2 separate regions of the Homo sapiens genome follow, and region 1 is linked to region 2. Evidence: fine-mapped expression QTL. A gene starts in region 2. The other region holds a variant in brackets. All regions are shown on one strand. Distances are from middle to middle.

Region 1 (2,887 bases), 30 kb after region 2:
AGGGTTGAATATGAGCCCCCAGACCCTCTGTCCTAGAGGAAGTTGGGGTGGCCCGGGGAATGGGGCTCTGCTTTGCTGCCCAAGACCTCGCATTGCAAGGAGAGTCTGGGTAGAGAGCCTGGGATGGCATGTGAGCCTCGCTGGCTTCCCTGGAAGGGGAAGGAGGAGAAGCTGGGGTGTCACACTGTTAAAGAAATGCTGGGTGGAGTGGCTCATGCCTGTAATCCCAGCACGTTGGGAAGCTGAAGTGGGTGGATTGCTTGAGCCCGGGAGTCCGACACCAGCCTGTGCAACACATTGAAACTCCGTCCCTACAAAAAATACAAAAATTAGCCAGGTGTGGTGCATGCTACTGGGGAGGTTGAGGTGGGAGGCCCTCTTGACCCCAGGTGGCTGAGGCTGCAGTGAGCCATAATTGTGCCACTGCACTCCAGCCTCAGCAAAAGAACTAAGACCTTGTCTCAAAAATAAAAATAAAGGCCGGGCATGGTGGCTCACGTCTGTAATCCTAGCACTTTGGGAGGCCAAAGAGGGTGGATCACCTGAGGTCATGAGTTTGAGACCAGCCTGGCCAACATGGCCAAACCCGTCTCCACTAAAAATACAAAAATTAGCCGGGCGTGGTGGCGCATGCCCATAATCCCAGCTACTTGGGAGGCTGAGGCAGGAGAATTGCTTGAACCTGGGAGGAGGAGGTTGCAGTGAGCCGAGATCACGCCACTGTACTCCAGCCTGGATGACAGAGTGAGACTCCATCTCAAAAAAAAATTATAATAACTAAAATAAATAAATAAAGCATCTATCCTTCAGCCATTTGCTAAGCAGCTGCTGTATTCCAGGCACTGTACCAGGTACCGGGAGCCCACCATGTACAAACAGCTGAGTCTAATGGGGTGGGCAGACGAGCAATCACATACTTACTACAGCATAAGCGATAAGACAGAGAGGGCTTCTCTCCAGCTCACCTGGGAGAACACTGAAAATGTACCTTGGTTGGACTTTAGAGCTGGGGATCAGGGAAGGCTTCCTGGAGGAGGTGGTGTTTAAGCTGAGTCTTGGAAACCGGATAGGAATGAAGCAGGTATCTGTGAGTTCAAGCTGTTCCCTGGCCAGGATCTCAGACACCCTCCCAAGCAGCTCCAGGAGCCTGTGAGGCCAAGGGCAGCTCTGACCAGCCATCTCTGGCCCTGGGCAGGCCTGCAGGAGTTGTTCCAGGCCCCAGACCTGCGTGGGATCTCCGAGCAGAGCCTGGTGGTGTCCGGCGTGCAGCATCAGTCCACCCTGGAGCTCAGCGAGGTCGGCGTGGAGGCGGCGGCGGCCACCAGCATTGCCATGTCCCGCATGTCCCTGTCCTCCTTCAGCGTGAACCGCCCCTTCCTCTTCTTCATCTTCGAGGACACCACAGGCCTTCCCCTCTTCGTGGGCAGCGTGA[G/A]GAACCCCAACCCCAGTGCACCGCGGGAGCTCAAGGAACAGCAGGATTCCCCGGGCAACAAGGACTTCCTCCAGAGCCTGAAAGGCTTCCCCCGCGGAGACAAGCTTTTCGGCCCTGACTTAAAACTTGTGCCCCCCATGGAGGAGGATTACCCCCAGTTTGGCAGCCCCAAGTGAGGGGCCGTGGCTGTGGCATCCAGAGTCCCTGCCTGGACCAGCCTCTCCACTCATGTGACTCTTTCCAACCGGCTTTGTGGCACTGGGGCAGGGGCCGGGGGCAGTCTGAGAGAGGCCATTCTTTCCCAACACCTCTTGGGGAGTTTAGGGTGGGGGGGGGGCGCGGCTGGGAGGAGGGCAGGCATCGGGGAGCCGGGAGCCTGACCCTCATCTTTCTTCCAAACAGGCTCAGAGGGTGTCCTGCACCGGGGCCTGGGCAGGAGGGAGGTGCTTCTAGTTCTGCCAGGAGACAGGTTAGCTGCTCCCCACGTCAGCTGGGACACCCCGACTTTTGTTTACCAGAGAAAAAGGGAGGGGGAGAGGGCTGCCTTTGGACTTGTCCCGGGACACCTAGGCTAGGGTGGGGAGAGACGGGCCCTGGTGGTGGCTCGGGAGGCGAAGCGTTGTCCTCAGCCCCGCGTGGAACTCGTGTCTGGCACAGCCTGGCTGTGGCCTAACCTGCCGAGAGTCCATCAGCCTCCATCCTACCCCCTGTGCCTTGTCACGCCAGACTTCCCACGGCTCCTCGAGATCCCAACACTGCCAGCATTTCCCTTCCTTCCTCTCCTGTCTCCCTCCTCTGCCCGGGAGCTCAGGAACCGAGGCAGGGAAGGATCCCATGAGCTCCTTAAGGCTCTTTTGTAAGGTTTTTGTAGTGATTTTTATGCCACCTGAATAAAGAATGAATGGGCCTGGCTGGTTTGATGTCACCGTTCTGGGCATGGGTGGGGACAAGTGAGGATGGTGGGGAAGGCAGGGAGGCGGCCGCAGGGTGGACTGTGCTGAGGAACCCTGGGCCCAGCAGGGGTGGCAGCCCGCGCAGTGCCACGTTTGGCCTCTGGCCGCTCGCCAGGCATCCTCCACCCCGTGGTCCCCTCTGACCTCGCCAGCCCTCCCCCGGGACACCTCCACGCCAGCCTGGCTCTGCTCCTGGCTTCTTCTTCTCTCTATGCCTCAGGCAGCCGGCAACAGGGCGGCTCAGAACAGCGCCAGCCTCCTGGTTTGGGAGAAGAACTGGCAATTAGGGAGTTTGTGGAGCTTCTAATTACACACCAGCCCCTCTGCCAGGAGCTGGTGCCCGCCAGCCGGGGGCAGGCTGCCGGGAGTACCCAGCTCCAGCTGGAGACAGTCAGTGCCTGAGGATTTGGGGGAAGCAGGTGGGGAAACCTTGGCACAGGGCTGACACCTTCCTCTGTGCCAGAGCCCAGGAGCTGGGGCAGCGTGGGTGACCATGTGGGTG
Region 2 (2,895 bases):
ATTTATTTTTATTTATTTATTTGGTTTTATTTTTATTTATTTATTTTTATTTATTTATTTATTTATTTATTTATTTATTTATTTATTCTTTTTGACGGAGTCTCGCTCTGTTGCCCAGGTTGGAGTACAGTGGCGCCATCTCGGCTCACTGCAAGCTCTGCCTCCTGGGTTCATGCCATTCTCCTGCCTCAGCTTCCCAAGTAGCTGGGACTACAGGCGCCCCCCACCACGGCCAGGTAATTTTTTGTGTTTTTAGTAGAGACGGGGTTTCACCGTGTTAGCCAGGATGGTCTCGATCTCCTGACCTCGTGATCCAGCTGCCTCAGCCTCCCAAAGTGCTGGGATTACAGGCGTGAGCCACTGCACCCGGCCAGTTTTGTTTTTTAAAAAGCCGTGAGAGGGCTGTCAGGAGGCAGTGCTCCTGGGCAGAAAGAAGGCTGGCACCAGTTTCTAAGTCTCCATTCCGCCAGGCGGACAAGCCTCTCTGGCGGTTGTTGGTTATCACTTGTAAAATATAAACAGTAATAACTGTCCTCCCTACCTCACAGAGTGTGTTGCGAGGGCCAAATGGAATGTGACTGTTGAAGTACTTAGGAAAGTTAAAAAGCTCCTTCCTATGGAAGGTGGCATGGAGGCGCCGGGGGGATTCCATGTCAAAAGTCCCAGTTCTGGCCGGGCGCGGTGGCTCACGCCTGTCATCCCAGCACCTTGGGAGGCCGAGACGGGTGGATCACGAGGCCAGGAGTTCGAGATCAGCCTGGCCAACAAGGCGAAACCCCATCTCTACTAAAAAATACAAAAATTAGCCGGGCGTGGTGGCGCGCTCCTGACGTCCCAGCTACTCGGGAGGCCGAGGCAAGAGAATCGCTTGAACCCGGGAGGCAGAGGTTGCGGTGAGCCGAGATCGCGCCACTGCACTCCAGCCTGGGCGACAGAGCAAGACTCCGTCTCAAAAATAGACACAACAGAAGTCCCAGTTCTGCCCCTGGTTGTGCGGTCCGCACTTAACTAAGAGGCTGGCATCTCTGGGAACAGCCTCCGGGACCCGCGCGCTGGTGCGTGCTGGAGGGAGTAGGGAGGGGTGGGGCGGTAGGCATCGCCCTCCGCCGGGCCCGGCTGGAGCTGGCTGGAGACCCTTTCAGCCCCGGGAGGAAGCGGAGCCCAGACCGAGCCAGAGCGGAGCAGCGGGAGGGAGGGCGGGGAGGCCGCCGGGCAGGAAGCGGGGTCCCGCCCGGGCCTCTGGAGCCACGTGCGCTTGTTTCCGTGCTGGGGCGATCACGTGACCCGCGTCAGCTGACCCGTCACGGTGGAGCCCGGTGCTCGCGCCCGGCAGCCTCTGCCCCGCCGCGCCCGGAGCGCAGGACCCGCGGAGGGGTAAGCGCGCCCCCCGTCCGCCTCTTCGCCGCCGCCGGCTTCCTGCGGCCGCCTCCGCCCCAGCCCCTGTCCCGCGCCCATCCCAGCCCCGCCGGCCTGGCACCCCGGAAGCCGTCGCCAGCAGGGCCGTGGCTGGGCTCAGCCCCGCGCTGCCCCCGGGCGGCCTGGAGGAGATGGCCCAGGGCAGCGGGGGGCGGGAAGGCGCTCTCAGAACCCCGGCCGGGGGCTGGCATTCCCCGCCAAGCCCAGACATGCAGGAGCTGCTCCGGAGCGTGGAGAGGGACCTGAGCATCGATCCCAGGCAGCTGGCTCCGGCCCCGGGGGGCACCCACGTGGTGGCCCTAGTGCCTGCGCGCTGGCTGGCCAGCCTCCGCGATCGCCGGCTGCCCCTGGGACCCTGTCCCCGCGCAGAGGGCCTGGGAGAAGCGGAAGTCAGGACTCTCCTGCAGCGCTCTGTGCAAAGGCTGCCTGCCGGCTGGACGCGCGTGGAGGTGCATGGGCTGCGGAAGCGGAGACTGTCCTACCCTCTGGGCGGGGGCCTGCCCTTTGAGGACGGGTCCTGCGGCCCTGAGACCCTCACTCGCTTCATGCAGGAGGTTGCCGCCCAGAATTATCGCAACCTGTGGCGCCATGCATACCACACTTACGGCCAGCCGTACAGTCACAGCCCTGCCCCCTCAGCTGTCCCTGCCTTGGACTCAGTACGGCAGGCTCTGCAGAGGGTCTATGGTTGCTCCTTCCTGCCAGTGGGTGAAACTACCCAATGCCCTTCATATGCCAGAGAAGGCCCCTGCCCCCCTCGGGGCAGCCCTGCTTGCCCTAGTCTTTTACGGGCTGAGGCCTTGCTGGAGTCGCCGGAGATGCTGTATGTGGTACACCCTTACGTACAGTTCTCCCTACATGACGTGGTCACCTTCAGCCCTGCCAAGCTGACCAACAGCCAGGCCAAGGTGCTGTTCATTCTCTTCCGCGTGCTGAGGGCTATGGACGCCTGTCACCGCCAGGGGCTGGCGTGTGGGGCCCTGTCTTTGTATCACATCGCAGTGGATGAGAAGCTTTGCAGCGAGCTGCGACTGGACCTGAGTGCTTATGAGAGGCCCGAGGAGGACGAGAATGAGGAGGCCCCTGTGGCAAGGGATGAGGCGGGCATTGTGTCTCAAGAGGAGCAGGGAGGGCAACCTGGGCAACCCACTGGCCAGGAGGAACTTCGGAGCCTCGTGCTAGATTGGGTCCACGGCCGCATCAGCAACTTCCACTACCTCATGCAGCTGAATCGGTTGGCAGGTCGGCGGCAGGGGGACCCCAACTACCACCCCGTGCTGCCCTGGGTGGTGGACTTCACTACGCCCCATGGGCGCTTCCGAGACCTGCGCAAGTCCAAGTTCCGCCTCAACAAGGGGGATAAGCAACTGGACTTCACGTATGAGATGACACGGCAGGCATTCGTAGCAGGCGGGGCGGGCGGCGGGGAACCCCCTCATGTTCCCCACCACATCTCAGACGTGCTCTCCGACATCACGT

Alleles and levels. Alleles are on the strand shown, and positions count from the first base shown. SD is a standard deviation of normalised expression in the study named.
For the expression in monocytes of the gene that starts at base 1,292 in region 2, G is the high allele of the variant in region 1 and A is the other (small effect, 0.40 SD a copy in BLUEPRINT).

Evidence for each region. PIP is the estimated chance that this variant, and not a neighbour inherited with it, causes the effect.
Region 1: its variant is the best candidate, but not a certain one, in a credible set for the expression of WDR81 in monocytes (BLUEPRINT, PIP 0.80).

Annotation. Positions count from the first base shown.
Region 1 is chr17:1,752,927-1,755,813 of GRCh38, forward strand. SERPINF2 (serpin family F member 2) reads left to right here. Exons shown (of 10, transcript NM_000934.4): 10 at 1,196-2,339. The coding sequence ends at 1,608. Among named protein-coding and RNA genes, the nearest start is that of SERPINF1, 7.7 kb to the right of the region's middle. The variant G/A (reference allele first, on the strand shown) is at 1,433.
Region 2 is chr17:1,723,413-1,726,307 of GRCh38, forward strand. WDR81 (WD repeat domain 81) reads left to right here and starts at 1,292. Exons shown (of 10, transcript NM_001163809.2): 1 at 1,292-2,895. The coding sequence starts at 1,548. RefSeq lists an enhancer at 855-1,355.